4 linked regions of the Homo sapiens genome follow. The protein of the gene in region 2 interacts with the protein of the main gene of each other region in a pairwise test. Each region holds a gene or a part of one and is shown on either strand. Other genes may lie near its edges.

Region 1 (7,751 bases), on a different chromosome or scaffold from region 2:
AGGCTTCATACCCCTGGACTCAAGAATCTAGAACTGTCACCTCTAGCTTTAAGTGAGGAGCTAAAGAGGCTACTCAACCTGCTCTATTCACAGAGGCCACCTTCTCCTACCTCCCTCACATCCTGTGTTGTTTATTGGCAGTCCTCCCAGCCTGAGAAGTCTTTCAAGGATTGGAACACTGCCCCAATCAGGGCAGCATACGCTTCAGAGAAATAGTAAAGTCTGACCAACCTGGAGAGCTCCTGCATGAGGCCCAACCCCTAACCCATCCCTCTAAGGGCCAGCTCTCCAGCAGCACAGGAGGCCAAGCAGAGCTGGGAACACCTTACCTTGCTTCCACTGACAGTATGGAACTTTTTCTCCAGAACCTTCTTCACGGGTTCTTCTTCTTTAAAGGTGATAAACACAAAACCTCGTCTTTTGTTCAACTTTGGATCCATTGGCAATTCAATGGCCTCAATCTGCAAAAAGCATAGGCAAACTCAGGCCCAATACCTCCCTACCCCAGAGCATATAGGGGACTCACAGGAGAAAAGACCCCATTGAAGACAGAGGGTGAAAAATAAGCCCTGCCTGGGAGGGTCTAGCCAGCCAAGGATACCAAGGACCAGAAAGAAGGCAGCCTTAGGGGCAGCTGATGGGCTATTCCCAGAGCCACACTCACCTCCCCAAACTCGCCAAAGTACTCCCTGATCTTTTCCTCAGTGGCTTCAGGATTCAGACCCCCAACGAAGATTTTCTTCACCGGGTCCTTCTTCATAGCCATGGCCTTTTTAGGGTCAATGACACGGCCATCCAGCCTGTGCTCCTTCTGGTCTAGGACCTGTTCCAACAGAAAGGGGTCAGGCTGACTCAGCAGCACGAGCCAGACAAGGCCCTTCTCTCTAAGCCATAAAGACACCAGTACAGATACAAACATGTGTTTCACCCCCTCCAAATTCTACCCCAGCTTAACCTCCCAACCCAATTTTCATCAAACCTCAAGTACAGCTGGTTTACCTCGACACCTAGAAAACAGTCCTCACACTTAAGCCTTTGATCATGCTCTTCCTGCCCAAGCAGTCCCAGCGTGAGGCCCATCTCCAGAAGCGAAGCAGCAGGGACTCGGAGCATAGGCTGAAGATGGGCCACAGGGGAAGGAATCCTCCCTCCACTCCCTACTAGCTGTGACCTCTTCTACTTACATTTCTGAGCCTTAGGGTTTTGGTTTTTGTCCTGTAAAATGGGGCTAAAAGCCTATCATACCAATCATGGACTCTCTTGTAATCCTCCCAGATGTTTAGCGCCGTACCCAGAATAGGCACATAAAAGGTAATGAATGTCAACTGTCATCTTCCCGAACCACTCCAGCACATTCTCTCACTCCCAGCTTAATCTGTATTTTCATCCCCTCAAAAACCGGAACATAACCTCCGGCTTTGGGTTTTGCCCAAAGCACTTAAATCACATGCAGACCACACAAACTAGTCATGCTTTAAGAAAGGTGTCCTCTTAGAATTCAAATCGTTTCCACTGAGACTGCTGAAATCCAGTACCCAGCTTACCTTCTCCACACTGGCTGCATCTTTGAACAGGATAAACCCAAACCCTCTTGACCGTCCAGTGTTGGGATCCATTTTTATTGTACAGTCAACGACCTCTCCAAATTTAGTAAAATAGTCTTTTAAATCTTTTTTGCTAGTATCCCAGCTCAGGCCACCAACGAACATTTTTCTGAAATGGTAGGGTGAGACACACGGCAACAAGTCTTGTAAGCAAGCTGTGATTTTGGAAAGGACTGGCCCTGGCAAAGTTCTCACGAAGTCTACAGCTACCCTTAGAGTCTGCAAGGAGCACCTTAGAAAGATGTTAAATCTCCACTACCCTCCAAATTGAACTCAACCAGGACCCTAACGAGGCTTAACAAGGCTCTGCAGCCCCAGCCTGTGAGAAGCAAAGAAGGGACCACCTCACCAGGGGTATGGGACCTAACCACTCATAACTGGAAATTCATGTGTTCTACAACCATGTAGCAAAGGGCCAGCGTCTCCACCAACTCCTGAGAACTCGTTTCAAGGAACTCGATGTTTCCGGGGACCAAGCCCGCCCAGGGTTCAGACCGTGACTCCGCCCCCGGGAGAGGCGGAGGAGGGAGGTCCGGGCCCCGGCTCGCGCCAACTCCGCCCACGCAGCCGCCGGCGCGGCCCAAGACGCCGCCGGGCCCCGGGTCCGAGCGCTTTCCCTCTTCCGGGCCATCCGCCCGCCCCTGCGCCGGCTCCGGCCCTGGCCCTGGCCCTGGCAGCGCGCGAGCGGCCCCGGGGCGGCGCCAAAGTCGACCCAACAAACTCCCGCAAACTCCAGCGCGAGTGGCAGCGCCAGGCCCGGCCCGCGAACGCAGCGGCGACAGTCCGCGGGCCGCACCAGCCCCGACCCGGGCCAGGCCGCCGCCCCTCCCCCCGCCGCGTGGCGCCAACAAAAGGCGGCCCCGGAACAAAGGCGGCGCCCCCGTCCGCCCGCGGCCGCACCTACCCCGCGTCCTCCTCGTTCTTGCTGGCGTTGATCTGGTCGCCCTCGGCGCCGTTCTGATTCCCGCTCGGGGGCGCCGCGGTCGCGCCTCCAGCCCCCGCCGCGGCGCCCGTGCCAGCCCCGGCCGGCGACTCGCCTTCGGGGACGGCCTCATGTCCGTTCTCGGTGGCGCCCGTCGTCTCCATGGGCTGCTCCTCGCCCGCTTCCGACATGCTAGGCCGAGGCGCGGCGGCTCCTGCAACCAGCGGCGACAGCGCGTCAGGCCGGCGCGGCTCCCGCCAGAGCTCCCGCCCGCCGGCCGCCGCTCACCTCGCCGCCGATGACGCCGCGGGGCCCGCTCGTCCCCACCCGCAGGGGAAGGCGCCGCAGGCTCGGCCGCACTCAAGCTCGCGCTGCTGAGGCCTCGCCCCAGTCAGCCCACGGAGCTGCTCCAACTGTGTCTCCTCCTCCTTGGCCGCCGCCGCACGGGAACCCACCGACCAACAGCCAAGCTCCGTCCCGCGCGGTGCCGCCGCCTGACAATGCCGACTCGTGGCGCCCTTTATAATGCCGGAGCCGGGTGCCACATCGCAACAAACTGCACACTCATTGGCTGCTCAAGTCCGTCACTCAACCTAGCTTCAGCGTCCCATTGGCCGCCACGGCGCGCGCGCTCTAGACCTGGGCGGGCTTTGTCCTCATTTTAGAACGCGCGCGAGTCCGGCCGCTACGGAGGGCTCCCGAAGCCGGGCGGGACGGCGCCGGGTCCAGGGCGGCGGGCAGCTACAGCACATCGGTGGGAGGGCCTAATCGGATTGTAAGCTCGTCGAGGCCGCTGGTCTCTTGCTCTCGAGGACTCCATCCCAGCATTGGCAGCCTCCGCCTCCCCATGTCCCAAAAGAGGAAACTGGGCTGGAGAAAGTTTCGCAGCCCAAGGACGCGTGGCTGGAAGTGGCAGAACCCGGGCTTCCGAGGTTGGGCGAGTGGGGTCCTCCAAGGCCCTCAGCACGGGTCGGAGGGATTGGGACTGAACCCGCCATCCCCCTGGACCTTGGTGCCCTCCAAGCCCCGCGCTCGCGCCCTGTCCGTCGCCTCCCCCAGAGATGCTCTGCAGGGACGATGAGACCTTGGTGTTCCCCGGTTCTCTGTCCCCTGGCACCACCTGAACGATTGACATCGCATTTGTACTTTTGTTTACTTAAATTTTTTCCTGTAAATCATTTGTCTTTCTTTTTCTTCCTTTTTATTATTTTTTTTTTTTTGATGGAGTCTTGCTCTTGTCGCCCAGACTGGAGTGCAATGGCGCGATCTCGGCTCACCGCAACCTCCGCCTCCCGGGTTCAAGCGATTCTCCTGTCTCAGCCTCCCGAGTAGCTGGGATTACAGGCATGCGCCACCACGCCCGGCTAATTTTTTTGTTTTTTTAGTAGAGACGGGGTTTCACCATGTTGGCCAGGATGGTCTCGATCTCCTGACCTCGTGATCCGCCCGCCTGGGCCTCCCAAAGTACTGGGATTACAGGCGTGAGCCACCGCGCCCGGCCTTTTTTTTTTTTTTTTTTTTTTTAAACAAATACGGAGGCCGGGCGCGGTGGCTCCCGCCTGTACTCCCAGCACTTTGGGAGGTCCAGGCGGGCGGATCACGAGGTCAGGAGATCGAGACCATCCTGGCGAACATGGTGAAACCCCGTCTCTACTAAAAATACAAAAAAATTAGCCGGGCGTGGTGGTGGGCGCCTGTAGTCCCAGTTACCGGGAGGCTGAGGCAGGAGAATGGCGTGAACCCGGGAGGCGGAGCTTGCAGTGAGCCGAGATCTCGCCACTGCACTCCAGCCTGGGCGACAGAGCGAGACATCGTCTCAAAAACAAAACAAAACAAATACACCACTCGTGAACTCACGAGGTAAAGGACAGGGTGGGGGCGTTGTTCTCTTCCTAATACACAAAACTCCTTTATATTATCTCCTTGACCACAAAATTTTAAAGGCCTCGGTAATCCCGTTATTCCTTTTAATCATATGGGTGGTGGGCCCCAAGGCAAGCAGGATTACAACCTCTGGAGCCTGCAGGTTACCAAATAGCAACCCAGAACACAAGGAACTAGCGTTTCCAGTGGATTCCTGCAGCCAGGACCAGTGTGGTGGGCTGGGCATTCCATTTTCTCTTCTGTATCTTAACAACCAAAGTAAGGTGGTATGGTCACCAATTTTATTTATTTTATTTTTTGACACAAGGTTTTGTTCTGTAACCCAGGCTGGAGTCCAGTGGCACGATCACGGCTTACTGCAGCTTCAACCTCCCGGGCTCAAATGAGCCTCCTGCCTCAGCCTCCCAAGTAGCTGGAACCAGAAACGTGGCCACCACGCCAAGCGAATTTTTTGTAAACACAGGGTCTCCCTATGTTGCCCAGCTAGATCACCAGGTTTTTTTTTTCTTTGAGACGGGGGTCTCGCTCTGTCGCCCAGGCTGGAGTACAGTGGAGCCATCTCAGCTCACAGCAACCTCCACCTCCCAGGTTCTAGCGATTCTCCTGCCTCAGCCTCCTGAGTAGCTGGGATTGCAGGTGTGTTCCACCATGCCGGGCTAATTTTTGTATTTTTAGTAGAGATGGGGTTTTACCATGTTGACCAGGCTGGTCTTGAACTCCTGATCTCAGGTGGATCACCAATTTTAAATGAGAAAACTGAAGTCAAGAGCAGCGGCCCAAAGCTACACAACCAACTCAGGCACTAACTCCACCCAGGCACTGGAGTTGCCCTGAGAATGAAAAATGAAGATACGTGGATTTCAGGCTTCTCTAGGAAAGTCCGAAGATTTAGCTCACACTGTACTGCCTTCCCCCAAAGTAACAATCAAGTGCAGCTGGGATACCCATACCCAGGTGGGCAAGTGCCCTCTGGTTCACCCCAAGGCCACTCTTCACTGTCCCAGGCTAATTCCATAACAGGAAGTCACATATTTCCACACGACCTTACTCATGTCACTGAGATCTGGCAGCAAGGCTTTCAGGGCGGTCTCTAACAAACTGCTCACCCCACCTCCACCCCAGCCCTTGCCAACCCACAGAAATGAGGGCCAGGGCTGTGGCCTGCAGGAGATGATGGGCACAGCTCCCCAAGCAGTGAAGGTAATTCAGGAAATTAAGTTCAAAGTCAAATAGTGTAGGTGCAGCCCAAAGACATTACTGCAGGCATAAATTCCCTTAATCTTCCACGTGGATTTCTTTAGCACGACTCAGAAACACTTTCAGTGACGTGTAAAGTCTGAGGATACAACATTTGGACAGCGCTTAGCAGTTTGCAAAATGCTTTCACCAACCTTGCTTTACTGGAGCTTCAAAATAGCTTTGTGCAGTTACCCATATTTTATACACAAGAATACTGAAACCACAGCTAAAACTGTGGCCATGAAACCAACACGTCCAACTCCACATTGGGGATTGTTTCCAGGGCTCCTGGCTACTGTGGGACAAGGTGTGTCTGAGCTTCTGAGTTCCTTGATGTAAATTAGATCTCCTATCAAAGATCTAATTTATTCTGAGGCTCAGCTGGGCGTGGTGGCTCACGCCCGTAATCCCACCACTTTGGTAAGCCAAGGCAGGAGAATCCCATGAGGCCAGGAGTTTGAGACCAGCCTGAGCAACATGGTGGAACCCCCATCTCTACTAAAAATACAAAAAAAAGTCTGGGCATGGTGGCCCAGGCCTGTAGTCCCCCCTGCTCGGGAGGCTGAGGCACAAGAATCACTCGAACCTGGGAGATGGAGGTTGCATCGAGCCGAGATCGCACCACTACACTCCAGGCTAAGTGACACAGCGAGACTCTGTCTCAAAATAAATAAATAAATAAATAAAGAATCCTGAAGCTCAAATAAGGTAATGGCTTAGAAAACACTTCATAAACTAGAAAGAACTGCAGGCAGGTAGGGGTCAGTCTCAGCAAAAAATAAAAAATGCCGGGCCGGGTGCGGTGGCTCACGCCTGTAATCCCAGCACTTTGGGAGGCCGAGGCAGGCGGATCGAGACCATCCTGGCTAACACGGTGAAACCCTGTCTTTACTAAAAATACAAAAATTAGCCGGGCGTGGTGGGGGGGCGCCTGTAGTCCCAGCTACTCGGGAGGCTGAGGCAGGAGAATGGTGTGAACCCGGGAGGCAGAGCTTGCAGTGAGCCGAGATCGTGCCACTGCACTCCAGCCTGGGGGACAGAGCCAGACTCTGTCTCAAAAAAATGAAATTACATAAATAAATAAATAAAGCCTTCATATTGTATCCAAGGGTGTTTCTGCCAGAGGCAAGGCACCACACTGTTTGGGAAACAGCAGGAAGTCCTTTTGACACAAGCCTCCCTACTTTTGTTATTAGGTTCAGTTACAGACCCTGAGTAGAGGGCAATTCCATGACAGTGAGGTTCTCAAGTCAGCCAGGAGCTCAGTTACCCCTGAAAATCTCTTAAAAGGCCCATAGAGTATACACTCCCTGGGTTTGGGCTATTCAGAATATATGCATAAAATGTGGACAATCTCCAATCTAGGAAAGGACATACACAAAATGCTTTTGGATTGTTTTTTAATTACATGAATTGATTTTTCTCACATTCTTTTTTTCGGTTTTTTGGCTGAGCCTGCAAGGTGGAAGTTGCATGAGTTAACTACAAATATATCGTGCCTCTGCTGTGGCCAACTCCCGCTGCAGCCACTTTCCCCGCTCCACCAAACTCCAGCTCCCCTGCTTCAGAGGAGTCCTCTAGCCAGATGAATCTTTCTAAAACACAAGTCATAAGATCTGAGAGCTACAGTGAAAAAAGGAAAAACTGAAAATGCAAGTCCCATCTTGTCACTACCTCTGTGTGAAAACCCTGGCTGACTTCCCAGTGCTGTCAGGATGAAGTCTTAGCCTTGACTTCGGGTGAATACGAGTGGGACAGACAGTTGGGGCTCCCAGAAATCTGTGCCCCCACCTTGCCAGCCTCCCCTGCTGTGTGGTCTGTGAGTGGAAGAGTTCCTTTCAGGCTGGGGCCATGGAGACTGGGGGCCTTGTCCAGACTTCCCTTCACCCCGCGACCATGTGTTCTACACGGCTGAGCTACCTCATGGAGAAGAGCTGTTCGGCCCACATCAGATTTGACACAAGCTGAAAATGAACCTGTACTGGGCCTGGCACTGAGATTTGGGATTTTTTTTTTCTCTCAAACTGTAGCCTGGCCTACTCTCACCCTCCCACCTGGCCTATAAGGTCCAGCATGAGTCGCCTCAGCTGCACCTCCTTGCC
Region 2 (3,310 bases):
TTGTCCTCTTTTCAGGGCAGCAAGATCTGCCCCACAGCAGTTTTCCTCCTGCTCTGTTACCTGCAGGGATGCAGTTAGTGTTCAAGTTACAGCAAAGAAAAAGCTGAGGACAGGAGAGGAGGAGGAAGATCTCCCAGTACTTCTGTCCCCCAAGTCCTCCCTGACTTGTCAGCCCCAGGCTGCTCTGGTGAATGCACCTTTTACTCCACGCTGTCAGCTCCAGTGCTTCATATACTCCTCTGTCCCTTGGCTATATTGAGATCCTGACGATGCCTACCAAGCTGCCTCTTATGTAGGATCCAGAACCAGTGGGATGAAAGAGCAGCAGGTAGGCTCCAAAAAGCTGATAGCACTGGGGGCTTCATGACCCATAGGACATGAGCTGGGACCCCATCATCTCCCTTCAGACTAGGGCACTTTCAGGGTCTCTCATATATAAACACACATACACACACATACACACCGCAAATGATGGGGAGGGGAGGTGGCCCCAGCATGTGGTGGATCACAGTCACTAAGTCTACTTACTTATTATTTATTTTTAAAATATATTTAAACAGCAGCAGTCACTTCCAAAATGCAAAAAAAATTACAATTTTTAGAATAAAATTATAATGTTTATAATGCGGGTCAGAAGAATTGAAGGTACAACAGAATCAAATCACGCAGCACTGGAGGCGGCTGGAGAAGCCAAAGCCCACTGGTCAGGGGTCCAAGCTGACAAGAAGTCCCAACCTGAGAGGTCTCCACACCCAAATCATACCCCTCAGCTTCCCATTGACAGAGCCAGTGTCCTCTGGGTTAGAGAAGGAGAAGCGGCAAGGAGCTGGCCCTCTGTGTGGGTGTCCCAAACCCAGTCCCCCCCATCAGCCAGGGACCTGCTAATCCACCTCCTCCATGTTGCTGTAGGTGGGGGCTGGCCGATCCACAGGGGGGGCGAAGCGTTCAGGGGCTGTCCGCGTGGGGGCCACCTCGGGGGCCTGGCCAGGGCCTAGTCCCTGCAACAGAATACGAGGACAGGGGTTGGGGGCTGCCCAGCATGCCGCCTGGCATCCCGGGGGTGCTGGCTTGGAGCCCTGGCACCCAAGGGAGGGTCCCAAGGCAGGCGCAGACAGCAGCGGCGTTGAGACAGAGAGACGAGATTGGGCCTGAATAGTCTGGTTTTATTAACACTTTTAAGTACAGGAAGTAGCTTGGGCAGGGCCAAGCCTGAGGCCAAGGGTCAGAGCAGCAGGATGAATGGACAGACAGCCAGATGGATACACACCCTAGGATACTCTGCCCCTGCAGGGGCCACAACCTCCCCACCCTCTCCCACCAGATGCATAAGCTGAGGCCCAAAGCCCAGAGGTGTTCCCCACAACAAAGGCAGGCATGGCCTGGGGCAGGCAGGTAGGCCAGCTCACAGCAGCTGCCTGCAGGCGAGCTCATCTCCAGCGACTCTGGGATACCAGAGGATAGAACACGTTGAGCACGAGGGCCACCAAAGCCGCCACGGTGCCCAGGACAAAGTACCGGAGGCAGCCCTCATCTGGTGTGGTAGGGCCACGTGGTAGGGGGCCCACCCAGTCTTGGGGCCCCCAGGGACCCAGGGGCCCAGACCCCTCAGGCACCGGCTCCTCCTCAGCCTCCAGCTCCTGCCAAATCCGGGAAGCCTAGGGTATGTGGAAACGGCCATCAGCACCCCGGGGGTGGGGAGGACCCAGTGTCCCTGAGACCCTTAGCCATGACAGTCCCACCTGGGGTGACTGGGGCTAACACCCTGCATTCTAGATCAAACAGCAAGGAGGAAGGCAGGCAGCCAACCTCAGGGCTGTCCAGAGTAAGAGCACAAGGGTAAGAGAATCTTGACAGCATTTTGGCCTACCCTAAACAGCTCTCAATCCACATGCAGCTCCGCATGGAGGTGGGAGGGGAGTTATCTGGTTAGTATTTCAGTCCAGGCCTCCCCAAAGGACACCGATTCATAGAGAACAGGACTGCCAATCCCAGAGCAATCTCCTTGCTCCTTCCCACCCATACCCAGATCCTGACCAGTCTTCTGCAAGGATTTCTCTAAGCTTGACAGAGAAGGCTCAAGAGAGGATGGAGCCAGAAAGGAGACGGCCAGTCCAGAAAAGAGATGTGCCTACGCCCACTAACTGGGCCTATGGCACACCATGTCACTAAAGAGAAGATCCTGAAGGCTCAGCAAAGACAGATGCTTACCTCAAAGAGTATAACAGCCACCAGAGGCCATGGCCAGCCCAAATAGGCCTTGTCTTGAGTGCACACTAGAACTCAGGGACATCACAAGTGAGGGTGTGTGGGCCAGCATGTGGGGAATGTGCAGAGGAAATCTAGGAGAGTGTCAGGTATAGTTCATTCACAGCATAGTGCCCAGTGAGGTTCAGAGCAGTTGCCTGACCTGTGCCAAGTAGGTGCCAATGTGCTTGCCAGTGGCAGCATGTTAGTGTACTTGTATGTTTGTTAGTGTCCCCAAGGCATGGGGATGCCTCTGGCTAAAGCTTTGATGTTAAGAGAACTCTGCAATTCTCATGAATCCCAAGGCTCAATGGGCCTGTGGCTGGAGGAGAGGAAGCTATATCCCCCAACCCGGCCCCAGTCTGTGAACTGTCCCCCAGTATTCTGTAAAGCCTCCCACATGCCTCACCTGGCTGGCAGCAGCCTCAGCTGCAGGGCCTAGGTCTGGGTGGTGCTCAGAGTGACCTGCCCTGGGGGGCCTCTCCACAGGAGAGTTCCGCCGGCGGTAGAAGAGTACATAGGCATAACGCGTCACAACCTGGCTCTCGTCTACCGTTGTCACTGTGCTGTCATCAAACAAGCGCCAGCCTACAGCAGGGTGGGAAGAGTGTGAACAAAGTCTGCACCACCACCCCTACCACCTATCCTGCTGGCTGTGTGTGCCCTCACCCACGTCACTGCGCTGACTGCTACGATCATTGGGCAGGCGTGCACAGGCAGTGTAGTGGCCACCAATCATGCCTCCATAGTGGTTGATGACAGCATATAGATCGTAGCTGGGCAGCTGCTCCTCTTTCTGACCAATGCAGAACTTGCTCAGGTCCAGGTTCCTGCAGGTCAGGTCCAGTCAGGGAGGGGTGAGACAGGCAACAGGCGCTCAGGATGCCCATCCTGGTCCTCACACCCCACCCACAGTTACCAAGGTCCACTGCTTACCTAACAGGGAACTCCACCAAGTCATTGATCTTGTCACGCCAGATAAAACTACGAAAGGAGAAGCGCTTGAGCTGCACGATGAGAACATTTGGCAGGCGCCATAGCAACAGCTGCTTGGAGGCCTCACGGT
Region 3 (7,036 bases), on a different chromosome or scaffold from region 2:
CACTTGGGTTCAGGAATAAGGACTGGCTCAAAAATGTCATCCAGTTTGTGCTGAACAAGTTCTGGCATTTCACATCGGACTGTACCATTGTCATTCTCAATCTCATCTAGATCCAGCTGGAATTCTCGGCGGACCATCTGGGCTGCCTCAGGATGCCCACTCATGCTTCGGGCTTGGCTAAGGGAAGCAAAAGGAGGCTCCTGAACTAAAAGAGACTTCTTAACCAAAGGGCAAGAGTAGCACTGTCAGTTGCCCCAAAGCTTCAGGACAGATGTTCAACTTCTGGTTTCAGCCCCCCTGAATGATTTAAGTCCCTGAGTCTAAGCAAGTGCCTTTAATAGGTAACAACATTGGTTCATGAATATCCTAAGAGGGCAGATAACTTTAATTTGTACTTACATTACCTGCCAAGTTATAAGTATTTGTTCTAGTTCACTAAAGCCAACAAACCTTGTATTTCTATTCCTGAAGGGGCAGAAAACAATAAAATATATTTGTATTGACTCAAAGTTCACTACTTATGAGCAAATATATAAGAAAAATTTAGACTGGCTGGTTCTTTTCCACCAAATTAACCAGTGCTTTAATTTTGCTAATCATAAGTACCATTCCATGCCGTGTTCAGCACATTTTATATTTTGTGAGACCACCAGTCACCCCTTTTTAGAATATTCACTCTTGACAGGTCAGGGCCAGCTTTACATCCAAGAAATAGGGATTCAAAGTTTCCAAATTCAAGTTCGTTAAAATTATACTCATGACACAACCCAAAATAGAGCTGTCTTGCTTAGGAGGCAGTATTTTGAGTCCCTAAGCCAATTTTGGGTTGCATGTATTTTAATTAGCCTTATCTCAAGAATAGGAAACTAAGCACAACCAAGTATAACACAAAGAAGAAAGTGAATCAGTATTTTAGCCACATGACATTGAACTTTTGTGGAAGACTTGATTCATGGGGTACTTATGGACACCCTCTACCCTGATTATAAACTCTAAGCTAGTCACCCTCCAGAGGGGATGAATCCAAGTCAGAAGTTAGAAAGATATAAGAGCCCTGCTAATGAGAAATTAGCAGGCAGTACTTACATCCTATAAGTGCGATACATAATTCTGTCCACGGAAAAGCAGTGAAAGAAGGCACAAGACCATTTAGAAGTGGTTTTGAGACAAAGACAAAGACAATGAAGACTGAAGAATCAAACATTTGGTTACAATACATTTACCCAGACACTCTGTCATGCATGATAATGGCTACAAGAACTCAAGATTATGTTACAGGACAGGCTGTGAGCACACAAGGCAAAGGCCATGGAGATGCTCTCAGACAAGTATCTCTATCTACATACTTGAGTTTGGAAGACATGTCCTCAGCTGGTCCCTTGCGTAACATGTTGGCATTGGAGCTTATGTTCTGTGCACGCTGAGGTTTCTCTTCCACCTGTTTTATTGGTGCAGCAGAGGGTCTCTTTGCTGACCGCTTAATCCTCTCCTCGAGCATGCTCATATCCTTTTCAGAAAGCTGTAAAGAGGCCAAATTTAGAAACCTAACTGGATAACACAATAATATCTATTTTCATATCAAAACAAATAGAACCTTCTATGTTAGGACATGTTTACTTTCAAAGCACCACATTTCAAAATCAACTACTATTAATACCTGCCTAGCTGCTATAGGAAGAGGAGATATGAAAGAAGGAGAGGGGCTGGGCACAGTGGCTCATGCATGTAATCCCAGCACTTTGGGAGGCCAAAGCAGGAGGATCACTTGAGCCCAGGAGTTTGACACCAGCTTGGGCAACATGGTGAAACCCCATCTATACATAAAGTATAAAAATAAGCTGGGTGTGGTGGCACGCGCCTGTAGTCCTTGCTACTCAGGAGGCTGAAGTCAGAGGATCACTTGAGCCTGGGAGGTCGAGGCTGCGGTGAACCATGATCACACCACTGCACTCCAACCTAGGTGACAGAGCAAGACCCTGTCTCAAAAAAAAAAAAAAAAAGAAACGATAAAAAAAAGAAAGCCAATTAGTAACTACAAATAAAAAGGTCAAAAATTAAATGAAGCTTCCTCATTTTTTGTTTTGTCACCACTATCTAGCTGTGTGACTATGGGCAAGAAACTTCATTTTTGGTCATCTGTAAAATTCCCAACTGCTTTATATTCTTCACTGGGTAGTAGTGAGAATTTAATTAGAAAATATAAGTAAACATATTTAAGCCCTGTGTAAATACATGGTGACACTATGAGGTAACTGAAGACGGAGGTCCAGACTCACTCAAACGAAATAAGAGGTCAGAGGCAGAACCTAATGTGAGTGAAAAACTGGCTCACGGCTGTAGCGCAAGATGTGATCTGACAGATACTAGCATCCACACTATACACAAATAAGCACTTTTTAACCAAAAACTCGATGCAGTAAAAATTACAGAGCAGACTGCCAGGCAGAATTTAAACCCGGGACTAGCTCAGATTTCTTGATTCAAAAATAGCACTCATTTCTAAAGCAAATTTGCTATGAATAGAATGCTCAGAAAAGAAAACTTGATTTCCATTAAAACAGCCTAATCAGAGACACCTCAAGGGTCTATCTGGATTCTAGGACACATTGATAGGTTGAGTTGACTAAAAAGTAGTAAAAACTTAGCTACAGTTGAGAGGACAGGAAACCTAACACCTAGGAGATCTTGCAATTCTTTTCACGACATGCTGACAGTGTTCAGAGAAGTCACTCACATTTCCAATCAGTTTGAACACCTGATCCCCATGTACATTGTACACCGTTACAATGGTGTTGAGTGCAGCATTGCGTACAGCATTGTCACGGTCTCCTATGTGAACAGCTATTTCCTTTAAGGCTTTTCCTGGGGTTGGTTGGCAAACATTCATGCCATAGGACTCAACCAGACATCCCAGCTCTTCCAGGCACTCTGATGGGGGAGAAAGGCTAGATTAATGAGACAACACATATTTGGGACAGAGACTTATCCTTACTAGAGAAATTTCCCTTGGCATATATGAAGGACTAAAACCTTACTCTGGCTCTGCCTAGGATTTTTTGTTTACTGCCTTTTATCAGTGAAAAAATGGTATTTCAGCAAGTGCTCCTGAAAGGAAGAGATGCCTGTGAGTCAGATGGCCCCTGTGCACTTGATTTTGTCACCAGGGTGATACTGAGTGGTGCCTGTATCACCTGATACCATGGCTCCACCAGTGTGCAACTCATCACTCTCACAGTCTAAATCAGGAGGTTGGAATCAACTACATAGGCACTGGAGAAATTTATTTGTTCATCTATAAACTATTTCTTCTATAGGCTACTGCTGCAGAGATTCACATCTCAGTTTAAACTGTTTGCTTCACCTGCTCTCTGCTTAGAGTTTTTGGATTTGGTTCCTTCCATGATAAAGGGAAACATCTTGCTAGCTGGGTAGACAAGGCACATCCGGTTCAGGATGGCACGAACATCTTTACGAATGACATCCTTTGGTTCTCCAACCTAGTCGATAAGGAAAATAATGATTAAGTGAGGCATTTCCTAAGTAGCAATGATTCTCCCATGCATTACTATGTTTTGAAAGAATAGGGAAATAGGGATAAGTAGGGAAGGTACCGTGATATAATCAGTAAAAAAGGGAGAGGAAATAAAAGTACAGAAACTGAGGTCAGCTGGGAACTTAAGCAGTCTCCCAGAGAGAGAACACCACATTACCTTGACGACAAGATAGGGGATGAAGGAAGATGCTTCATTCTCAGTAAGATGATATTCTTCTTCACTTAGCAAGGTGAAGAGCAATTTTAAATATTCTAGTGCTTTCATCAGGACGCTTGTATTGGTGTCAAAAAACCTCAGGGTAAGCCACTTTAAGATAAGATCCAGGCAACCAATAACTCCTTCTTTTTCACTCTCCAAGTGCTTAAAATAAAACAAAACAAAACTCCCACAAATAAGAATAATCAAAATCTTAATTCTACTAGGCAAGTGTCTTTTAAATTTTATTGGAGCCCAAAAAGAAAATGACAGATTTTTAAGCCTTCAATTAAGACCTAAAAAATATACACACACATTCATTTATTCTACCAAATAACAAGACAGCTCTAAAAATAGAGAACATAGTATATTCTACTTCCAAGTCATGCAAACTTCAGATTATTTCATAGGGCTCGGTATTTTTACATGTCTGAAATACATGTATATTTATCTATTGCAGACTTACATCAACCATAACAGCAAGGGCTTTGTTATGATGCTGAAAGTCTGAGTGAAACATCTCATCTTGTAACCATTTAGCCACACAGCTAGACATTTGAGTCTTTAGTTGCTCAATGTATTCATCCCGTGGGGTAGTAAAATTCCACTTTAGCACCTGGAAAAAACAAACGGTGAAAAGGGGCTACAGGGTGTTCAACTGAAATGAGGTAGAGAGCCTTATATAATGCAGCTGCAGGAACAATAAAATATTTAAAAATTCAACAATATTCATTTGTAATTAAATATGAATGCAAATTTCAAGGTGTCATACTTCTTGAAGCTTAACAACTCTGAAAATCTTCTAGGAATAAAAATTTTTGGAATTGTTTGTTTTTGAGACAGAGTCTCACCTGTTGCCTGGGCATGGCAGAGTGCAGTGGCATGATCATAGATCACTGTAGCATTAACCTCCCAGGCTCAAGTGATTCTTCTGCCTTAGCCCCCCAAGTAGCTGGGACTACAGACATGCACCACTATGCCCAGCTAATTAAAAAATTTTTTTCGTAGAGATGAAGTCTCAATATGTTGTCCAGGCTGGTTTTGAATTCCTGGGCTCAGGCAATTTGCCTGCCTTAGCCTCCCAAATTGTTGGGATGACAGGCATGAGCCACTGTGCCTGGCCTTGCAATTCTTACTAAAGAAAAAAAAAAAATTAATCCTACATATAACTATATAACATGGTGGACACTGCTGCCACATCTTTGATAGAGAGAAAATTTGAAATATCTATCAAAATTATGCATATCATCATTCTAGGAGTTTAATATAGATACACTCACATATGTGTACAAAGACCTACATTCAAAGATATTCACAGCAGCAGTGTTTGTAATAGTGAAAGACCAGAAACAACCTAAATGTCCAACATAGTGGGCGAAGGATAAAGAAAGGTACATACATACAATGCACCAATACAAACAGTGATACACACATATATACACAGATACGAATGATCTTTCAGATATTTCAAACATCATTAAAAGAAAATAGTGAGATACAGAACAAACAGTACGGCATGTCTGTATATGCCATCTGTATAAAAGGAGGGCTATATAAAAATATACATATGATAGTAGAGGTATAAAATATTTCTGGAGTAATACATTGAAAAAATGAGGACTAATATCCTCCCTGTGGAGGGATACTGGAACAGAGACATGCTTTTCTTACTATACTTTGCACTTTCTGTACTGCATATAATTTTTAAAAAAGATTATGTATTTTGAAAACAAATTTAAGTATCTAATGAAATCAAAGTAACATAAATGACTGAACTAGCCATTTATACAGTCACAAAGTCTGCCTTGTAAGGTCTTAAAAAGAAGGATTAATGAAGAAGCTTATACATCCAATTAATTAAAAAAAAAAATCAATGAAGATACCAAAAAAGCTACTAAATCATTTATTTCTATTTACAGGGAAAAATAGGCAATAACTCTATTCTATAGTTTCTTTTGTAGGAATTAATGCTCCCATAAACTAAATAATATAATTTATAAGCAAAAGAAACACTTAATTCCTAGATATTAAACAATAACATGAATTCAGACAGCAAAACTATTCTTGAATAACAATACAAGCAAAAATCTCCTGACGATTCTTAATCCTTCCTTACCTTCAATCCTTTTTCATCTTTCATCCTTTGCTCTTTTCCATTTGGAACAACAATAAAAATAGGCCCGGATTTGTCTTCATCCTCCTTTAAGCTGGTTTTGCTTGGCATCTTCTTCCCTTGTGCACTCTACAACCAAGGTTCAGGGAATACTGATTAGCTTGGCCACTTCTCCTTAAGAATATGATGCTGCTGCCCAGTAAAAGGGCACTGTAGAAAACAGAGATATCTTTCTACGTGATATTTCACATGAAAAAAACATGCATCACAGAATCTTGTATATGTTTTTGAACAGGTTCTCTAGAAATTTTTCTGAGAATATTCTTAAGTAACTGTTGGTTAGTTCTTGGACTGGCATGTTATGTAGTTGGAAAAACTGCTATTACTGATCATTAGTCTAGGTCACAAACTTTTTGTTTTTGTTTTCTTGAAATCTTCAACACTATTTATAGCTTTCCATATTAATGACATCTTTTTTTTTTTTTTTTTTTTTTTGAGACGGAGTCTCACTCTGTCGCCCAGGCTGGAGTGCAGTGGCGTGATCTCAGCTCACTGCAATCTCCACCTCCTAGGTTCAAGTGATTCTCCTGACTCAGCCTCCTCAGTAGGTGGGACCAAAGGCGCCCACCACCACCCCTGGCTAATTTTTGTATTTTTAGTAGAGACAGGGTTTCACCATGTTGTCCAGGCTGGTCTCGAGCTCCTGACCTCAAGTGATCCACCCACCTCAGCCATTAATGACATCTTGAATGGCATTTACACATTTCCAAACACTTAGTTTGAAAGCTTTTCTGTTTCTTTCCATTGATATTTAAATGTATCTCTTATCATAACAGTGTAACTGAAGACCTTTTGAACTTGCTTCTAGAGAAAGTTACAAGAAATGCTTTAAATATTTAAGTCACTAAAGTGGTTTTAAAAAATAATCCAAGATTTAAAATCTTCATATCAGATAGAAAGAAAATAGTAAACAATAGTACACATATTTAAGGTAAAATTCAAATTTCATTACTGGAATCATTATTATTATAAATGTAGCATGGCCACTATTTCTAGTTGGCCACAATTTCTTTCTAGTATAAACACTAATGTCATTCAGACCAAACAAATATGAGATCATTTATATGAAACTGCTTCGTAAGTTTAAAAAGATTGGGAAAAAAATTATGGCATT
Region 4 (5,544 bases), on a different chromosome or scaffold from region 2:
CTCCCTGCCTCTGTCCACCCTCCTCATGCCAGGAGCCTACCATTCCTACCAGTCCTCTCCTTTCTGCACCCCAGAAGCCTGTCTCCACACTGGAGGAGAGGCTGAGATGTCCTGTGGGTCAGCCTCACCTCCATGTAAGTGTGGATCGCTATCCCCTTCTCCAGGGAGGCTGAGGCCAAGGGCCAGGCTAAGACAAGGCAGAAGTTTCTCCTACTTCAGACTTGCAGGGGTCATAAGCCCCAGCATCACCCTGGAATGCGGGTCACCAGGCCATGAGGCTGAACTAGGGGTGCCCCAGAACTGGGCAAGAAGCCCTGGGCGAGGCTTTGGGGGAGGGCGGCTGGGCCAGGGAAGTACTGTCGGTTGGTGGAAAAGATAGAAGAGTCCAGGAAGGCTGGACACAGGCGGCCAAGCCAGGGCGACCAGGAGACAAGAAGGTCCTCTCCAGGGTCCCGGTTGTGCTAAGTGCCCTAGCCTCCCTGCAGAGGGCTCTCTCCAGCTCCGCCTGCCCTGGGGACCCGTGAAGAGGCCAAGGCAACAGTGCAGTGATTTATTGACCAGACTTTGCAGCAAGAACACAGCGAAGGTGGGGCCCGTACAATCCAGCCTGGCAGAGGGTCTGGCCCCCTTAGAGCAGAATCTGGGGACCCCAGTATATTTCCCTCACAGCCCCCCAAAGTCCAGCCTCACCCTGCTCCAGGCCCCTCCTGAAGTGAGGGGCAGCAGGGGGACCGGGTCCTGGAGGGGCTGGAAGGCAGGTGGTGCCCAGAGCGGGGCTGGCACCGGGTGCATGCCTGCCCCGGTAGCCAGCAGGAGGTGATTCGTGCGGGGGCAGTGGGGGCGTGCAGGCGGGCAGCCAGGCTCACCACACGGAACACTTGTGGGCAGGGTTCATGGGTGAGTCCTTGGGACAGTGGAAAGCCCGGCCAAACTCCTCAAACTGGGACACACTGCCCAGCACCCTGGGGTGGGGAGAGACCCACACAGTGTTGGGCCCTGCAGCCACTCCAGCCCCAGCAACCAGGGGTGACTTTTATTCCTTCCCATGCCCCCTGATCCCACCCCAAACACAAGGAGTGGACAAGGCCAGGCGGGCAGGTGGGCATACCTGTAGTGCTCAGGGGCATGCTTGTCAGTCAGCACCTGCAGGTAGATGGACTGCGACCGCCGCTTGATGCACCAGTTCTGGGTCCAGGAGCGGGGTGGAGGGGAGGAGGGGGAGATGAAGCCAGGCATCCGCCCCCTTGCCCCCCACCCAGCACACAAGGCGGTAGGCCCCCTCAGCACCACAGGACCATCACCTCTGACGGGACAGGTGATGACAGACAGGCTGTCCATGCGAAGCCTGGGCAAGGCAGGACTGGGACTGACCCTGGATGCCGTGTCCCCACCCCAAGGCTCCCAGTCCAATCCCCCACCCAGCCCACCTGGGCAAAGGCAATGAAGAAGAGCTGGTCATGTGTGTACTTGAGCCGGGGAAGTGGGTGCTCTGGGCCGTGCTCCCGCACCCACTTCTGATAGGCCTGGGGACACAGAGAGCATGGACCTGCTATGCCCGCCCACCCTGGGCACCGCTTCTTCTCTGTCCTCCATCTAGGTAGCCCTCCCTGCTCTCCCTGTGAAGGGGGGCCCGTGAATCCTTCCTCTTCCAGTGGACCGTGGCCCCAGCACATGCCCTGCCCCACCCCAGGCCAGAGCTCAGCAGGGTGGGCAGGGAGAGGCAGCTCTGTCCCTCATCTGGAGTCCTCATCAGCCCCCGTCCCTCCTGCAGCAGGGGTGGAGCACAGGCAGGCCGCTCACGTGGTAGGCCAGCTTGAGGCCGCCCATATCTGCGATGTTCTCCCCAAGCGTGTGTTTCCCGTTCACCTGCCGGGAAGGGAAGAGGCCAGGGGGCTGCTTGGGGCCCAGCTGGCCTCCCTCAGGCATTGATACCCTGGGCCCCAGCCCCTAATTCCTACCACCCCTCTCCTTCCCTTGCCCAGAGAGTTTGAGGGGGGGCTCCAACCCTACTCTTTCCTCCCAACCCCCTTGTCCTCCGTAAGTCTGCGGACACTCATTATCTGTCCACGTGAGTGTGCGTGGGAACCGAATGTGTGTGCAGGGACCTGGGCACAGGTTTTGTTTGGACATGTGCACGTGCGCAAGGGTGTGCGTGATGCTCCCGGCCCGTGCCCCACCAGGCCTGAGGGGCACAAGGGGCAGGTGGGGGTCTCACCCGCTGGTTGTAGACAGTGAAGTTGTCATAGAGACGGACGATGCACTCAGCCTTTCGCAGGAAGCGGCTGTAGGAGGCCTCCGTCCACCAGTGCAGCAGGTTCCCTGAGCGGTCATACTGGCCCCCTGTGGGCAGTGCAGCAGGCTGAGACCCACCCTCACCTGAGCCCCCTCCCCTCCCCACCCACCAGCCCCAGTTAGGCCATCCCCTACCCTGCCTCTCCACTGCCTGTCCTGCCCCCTCCGGGCCATCCCCTGGGGCCCCAACAGGCCTCACCCCAGTCGTCGTAGCCGTGGGTCAGCTCATGTCCAATGATGGTGCCGATGCCCCCGTAGTTGAGAGACCTGGGCCCACAGCAGCAGCATCAGGCCCTAGCCCTCCACCCTCTGAGAGCCCCATGCTGCTGCCCAGGCCCCAGATGTCCCCTGGCCGGGCCAGGAGGTGGCACAGGGAGGCCACAGAGGCATCCGTGCGGTCCAGGGGCACATGTGCCTCAGCTTCCTCATGCGCTATGTGAATGCCAGTGGAACCTATCCAGCTTCTTTTAGGAAATCACATCTAACAGAGCTGGCTGGGCAGTGAAACAGGGCTGGAGGAGACAGGAGGGAAACGGAGGCACCTACGTAGGGGTTTCTCCTCCTACCTCATCATTAGTGTTGCGCCACCTTTGAAACATCAAAATGAGCCTCAAACAAGTAAAGAAGACCCCAGGAAGTTACAAATAACAAACCTACACATTTTTCTAAATAACCAAGGATGTAGTGGGGAGCCAGGGTCCACAGCTGTCCTGACTCCTGAACCCAGCTGGGTCTGGGGCGATTGGAGCCACAGTACGCCGACACACACCTGGTAGACAAGGTCTGCAATGCCAGCCCTGCCCTCAGCCACAAACAGGGCAAGCTATGTACTCACTGTGGGAAGTCAGGGTCGTACAGGGTGGGCTGCAGGATGCCCGCGGGGAACACTACAAGAAGGGGGTGCTCAGTGGGAAACCCATCCACTTTCGGACCCTGCCCCGCCCGGCGTAGGGACACATCCCCTTACCCATCTGGTTCTTGTTGGGTAGATAGTAGGCATTGAGCGCCTGTGGGGGGAGCAGCCACCTGTGGAGGGATGCTGGGGTGAATGGGGGGAACACACTCCCTCCCCCGCTACCCTCACATCACAGCTTCCTCGTCAGCCATCTCCTGACAGTCTGGGGGTCACCCTGCCGGCCCCCACCCCATGCCCTGTGCTGGCGTGTGTGCCCCCCATATCTGCATGGCTGTGAGACGATTTGCCCTACCAGCTCCTGCCCTTTCCCCACAACCCTTCCCTGACCCCCAGCTCTGGGCCAGGCACCCACGTGGACTTGTCCACCTCCTGCCGAATCTTCTTAACTGAGAGCTGGATGCTGAAGCGGATGCTGTTCAAGATGTTCTTGAAGTAGGTCTTCTCATGGACCTCAAACTGCAGGAGGCACGGGCGACACTCAGCGGCAGGCCAGGGCAGGGCTACCTGCAGACTGGGCAACAACCTGGCCGTGCAGGCCACCTGCCCTCCTGAGTGCCGTTAGTAGAGGGGCTGTGGACAGGCTGGGCAGGCAGGGTCAGGGCCCACCTCATACTCCTTGTCCACAGCATCGGGTTTCAGCAGGAAGTCCGGGTAGCCGACCATCACCATCATGTACTGGAGCTGCGGGCCGAGGGCAGGTGAAGGTGGCACCAGGCCTCGGGAGACAGCCCCCCGCCCCCCACCCTACCCACCAAGGAAGGGAGCACTAGGCCAGCCTGGGAGTGGGCTTCACAGTGGGGGAGGCAGGCCTGGTCAACTCCACGAAGGCCTCTTTGTCCCTTTTGTTCTCTTTCGCTGGTACACAGTAGGTGCTCAATATATATGGGACCAACCAATGACACTGGGTCCCCCCTCACCTTGGCCCGAGCAGCAGCCCTGGTCTCGGCGTCCATCCAGTCCAGCTCCTCCAGGCGCTGGCCCAGGATGTACTTGATGTCTTCCACTAGCTGCTGCACCTGCAGGGTCAGGGGTCAGGGAGCAAGGGTCAACCCAGCAGCCTGGTCTATCACTCCTGGCAGGAGGGGTACCCCTGCCTTTAAGCACCACTTTCTAAGCCCAAACCTCATTTCTGAACACCAAGAGGATACTTTGGAGGTGAGGATCCAGGCCCTGCACCCCCGAGGGCTCACAAGATAGAGGAGGAAACTGCCCCAGCAATGACCACAGACATCCCTAAGGCCACGCCTCCCGAGCATGCCTGAGAAGGTGGGCTGGGGCCTGGCAGGGAGGTCTGCCTGCAGTTGATAGTCCACATAAGCTTCCTGGAGGAGGAGGCCTGTGGAGGAGCAGCCTGGGGCCTCAGAATCGGCTGAGTACTTAGCAGGGCCTGGTCCCCCTGCCTGCAGGGGACATGTGGGGCTCCCCATATTAGGACCATGGCCTCGGGAGGGCTCCACCCTCAGTTCAGCACCATCCTCCTCTCTCAAACAAGGGCAACCCACCTTGGCTTTGCTGGCAGCTGAGAAGTGCTCATGTACAAAGAGGGCGCCAAGCGCCATGCCAAAGTGGCGATTGGCCTGGCCCAAGCAGACCCGGGCCAGCTCCTGTGGCTTGTCGCTGCCCTCCATCTCCTGTGCCAGCTCGTGCAGTGCCTCACGGAATGGCGGGGACAGGTGTTCACTCAGGACCACCACCACGCGCCACACCAGGTAGTTGTGCAGGACCCTGGGGACCAGGTGAAGCCAGTGGGTGTCCAGACGGACATGCATGTGGGCCACCAAGGGCACCACCCCTACCTGTGCCCGCCAACCTGTGGCTGGACCCAGGACCCAGACAGCCCCACAAAGAAGGGACAGGGGGTCATCCCAGCTATGCAGAGCAGAAAATGTAAAGCCCACCCAGCAGAGAGGTCCAGGGTGCAGGGGAAGGACCTAGTGACCGCTGGGCAGAAAATGCCAGATCTGCAGCCATACCGGTGGGGTGTGGAGCGGATGAGCTGCGACACCTGCTGCATGTAGTCTGTCGCCAGCAGCACCACCTCCTCTTCCTCTGAGAAGTCCTCCTGGAAGATCTGGTCTAGCAGCCACTTCCACCGCAACTGTGAGACCAAGGACAGGGACAGTGAGGCTAGGGTTGGCAGGGGCCACAGAAGACAGGGAGGGGGCAGAGAGAGGCAGCGAGGGGACATGAGAGTCCATGGCCAAGGAACGGTTTGCCCATCTCTGGGGAGAGATGACCCTGTAGTCCCAGCAGCAGCATTGCCCTCAACCCTGCCTGCCCACGAGGACTGGGCCACACTCACGTGGGGGGTGATCTTCTGCAGCTGCCCCAGCGTC

Evidence for each region.
Region 1: the proteins of USP19 (region 2) and HNRNPAB interact in a two-hybrid assay, tested with the Homo sapiens proteins (one study listed by BioGRID).
Region 3: the proteins of USP19 (region 2) and CKAP5 interact in a two-hybrid assay, tested with the Homo sapiens proteins (one study listed by BioGRID).
Region 4: the proteins of USP19 (region 2) and ECEL1 interact in a two-hybrid assay, tested with the Homo sapiens proteins (one study listed by BioGRID).

Annotation. Positions count from the first base shown.
Region 1 is NC_000005.10:178,199,804-178,207,554, reverse strand, and holds the start of HNRNPAB (heterogeneous nuclear ribonucleoprotein A/B), read right to left. Parts: upstream 3,023-7,751; 5' UTR 2,815-3,022; exon of another isoform or gene 2,741-2,814; 5' UTR 2,718-2,740; coding exon 2,509-2,717; intron 1,714-2,508; coding exon 1,545-1,713; intron 824-1,544; coding exon 665-823; intron 462-664; coding exon 330-461; exon of another isoform or gene 1-329. UniProt on the Homo sapiens protein: Binds single-stranded RNA. Has a high affinity for G-rich and U-rich regions of hnRNA. Also binds to APOB mRNA transcripts around the RNA editing site.
Region 2 is NC_000003.12:49,107,531-49,110,840, forward strand, and holds the end of USP19 (ubiquitin carboxyl-terminal hydrolase 19), read right to left. Parts: coding exon 3,181-3,310; intron 3,075-3,180; coding exon 2,914-3,074; intron 2,833-2,913; coding exon 2,654-2,832; intron 1,656-2,653; coding exon of another isoform or gene 1,428-1,655; exon of another isoform or gene 1,143-1,427; intron 999-1,142; coding exon 882-998; 3' UTR 520-881; downstream 1-519. UniProt on the Homo sapiens protein: Deubiquitinating enzyme that regulates the degradation of various proteins by removing ubiquitin moieties, thereby preventing their proteasomal degradation. Stabilizes RNF123, which promotes CDKN1B degradation and contributes to cell proliferation.
Region 3 is NC_000011.10:46,759,266-46,766,301, forward strand, and holds part of CKAP5 (cytoskeleton-associated protein 5), read right to left. Parts: intron 5,992-7,036; coding exon 5,866-5,991; intron 4,366-5,865; coding exon 4,216-4,365; intron 3,915-4,215; coding exon 3,711-3,914; intron 3,498-3,710; coding exon 3,362-3,497; intron 3,235-3,361; exon of another isoform or gene 3,124-3,234; intron 2,929-3,123; coding exon 2,735-2,928; intron 1,520-2,734; coding exon 1,347-1,519; intron 178-1,346; coding exon 4-177; intron 1-3. UniProt on the Homo sapiens protein: Binds to the plus end of microtubules and regulates microtubule dynamics and microtubule organization. Acts as a processive microtubule polymerase. Promotes cytoplasmic microtubule nucleation and elongation. Plays a major role in organizing spindle poles.
Region 4 is NC_000002.12:232,479,291-232,484,834, forward strand, and holds the end of ECEL1 (endothelin-converting enzyme-like 1), read right to left. Parts: coding exon 5,511-5,544; intron 5,307-5,510; coding exon 5,182-5,306; intron 4,934-5,181; coding exon 4,711-4,933; intron 4,225-4,710; coding exon 4,126-4,224; intron 3,890-4,125; coding exon 3,815-3,889; intron 3,665-3,814; coding exon 3,561-3,664; intron 3,319-3,560; coding exon 3,260-3,318; intron 3,180-3,259; coding exon 3,128-3,179; intron 2,560-3,127; coding exon 2,492-2,559; intron 2,341-2,491; coding exon 2,216-2,340; intron 1,867-2,215; coding exon 1,801-1,866; intron 1,524-1,800; coding exon 1,428-1,523; intron 1,186-1,427; coding exon 1,109-1,185; intron 963-1,108; coding exon 863-962; 3' UTR 537-862; downstream 1-536. UniProt on the Homo sapiens protein: May contribute to the degradation of peptide hormones and be involved in the inactivation of neuronal peptides.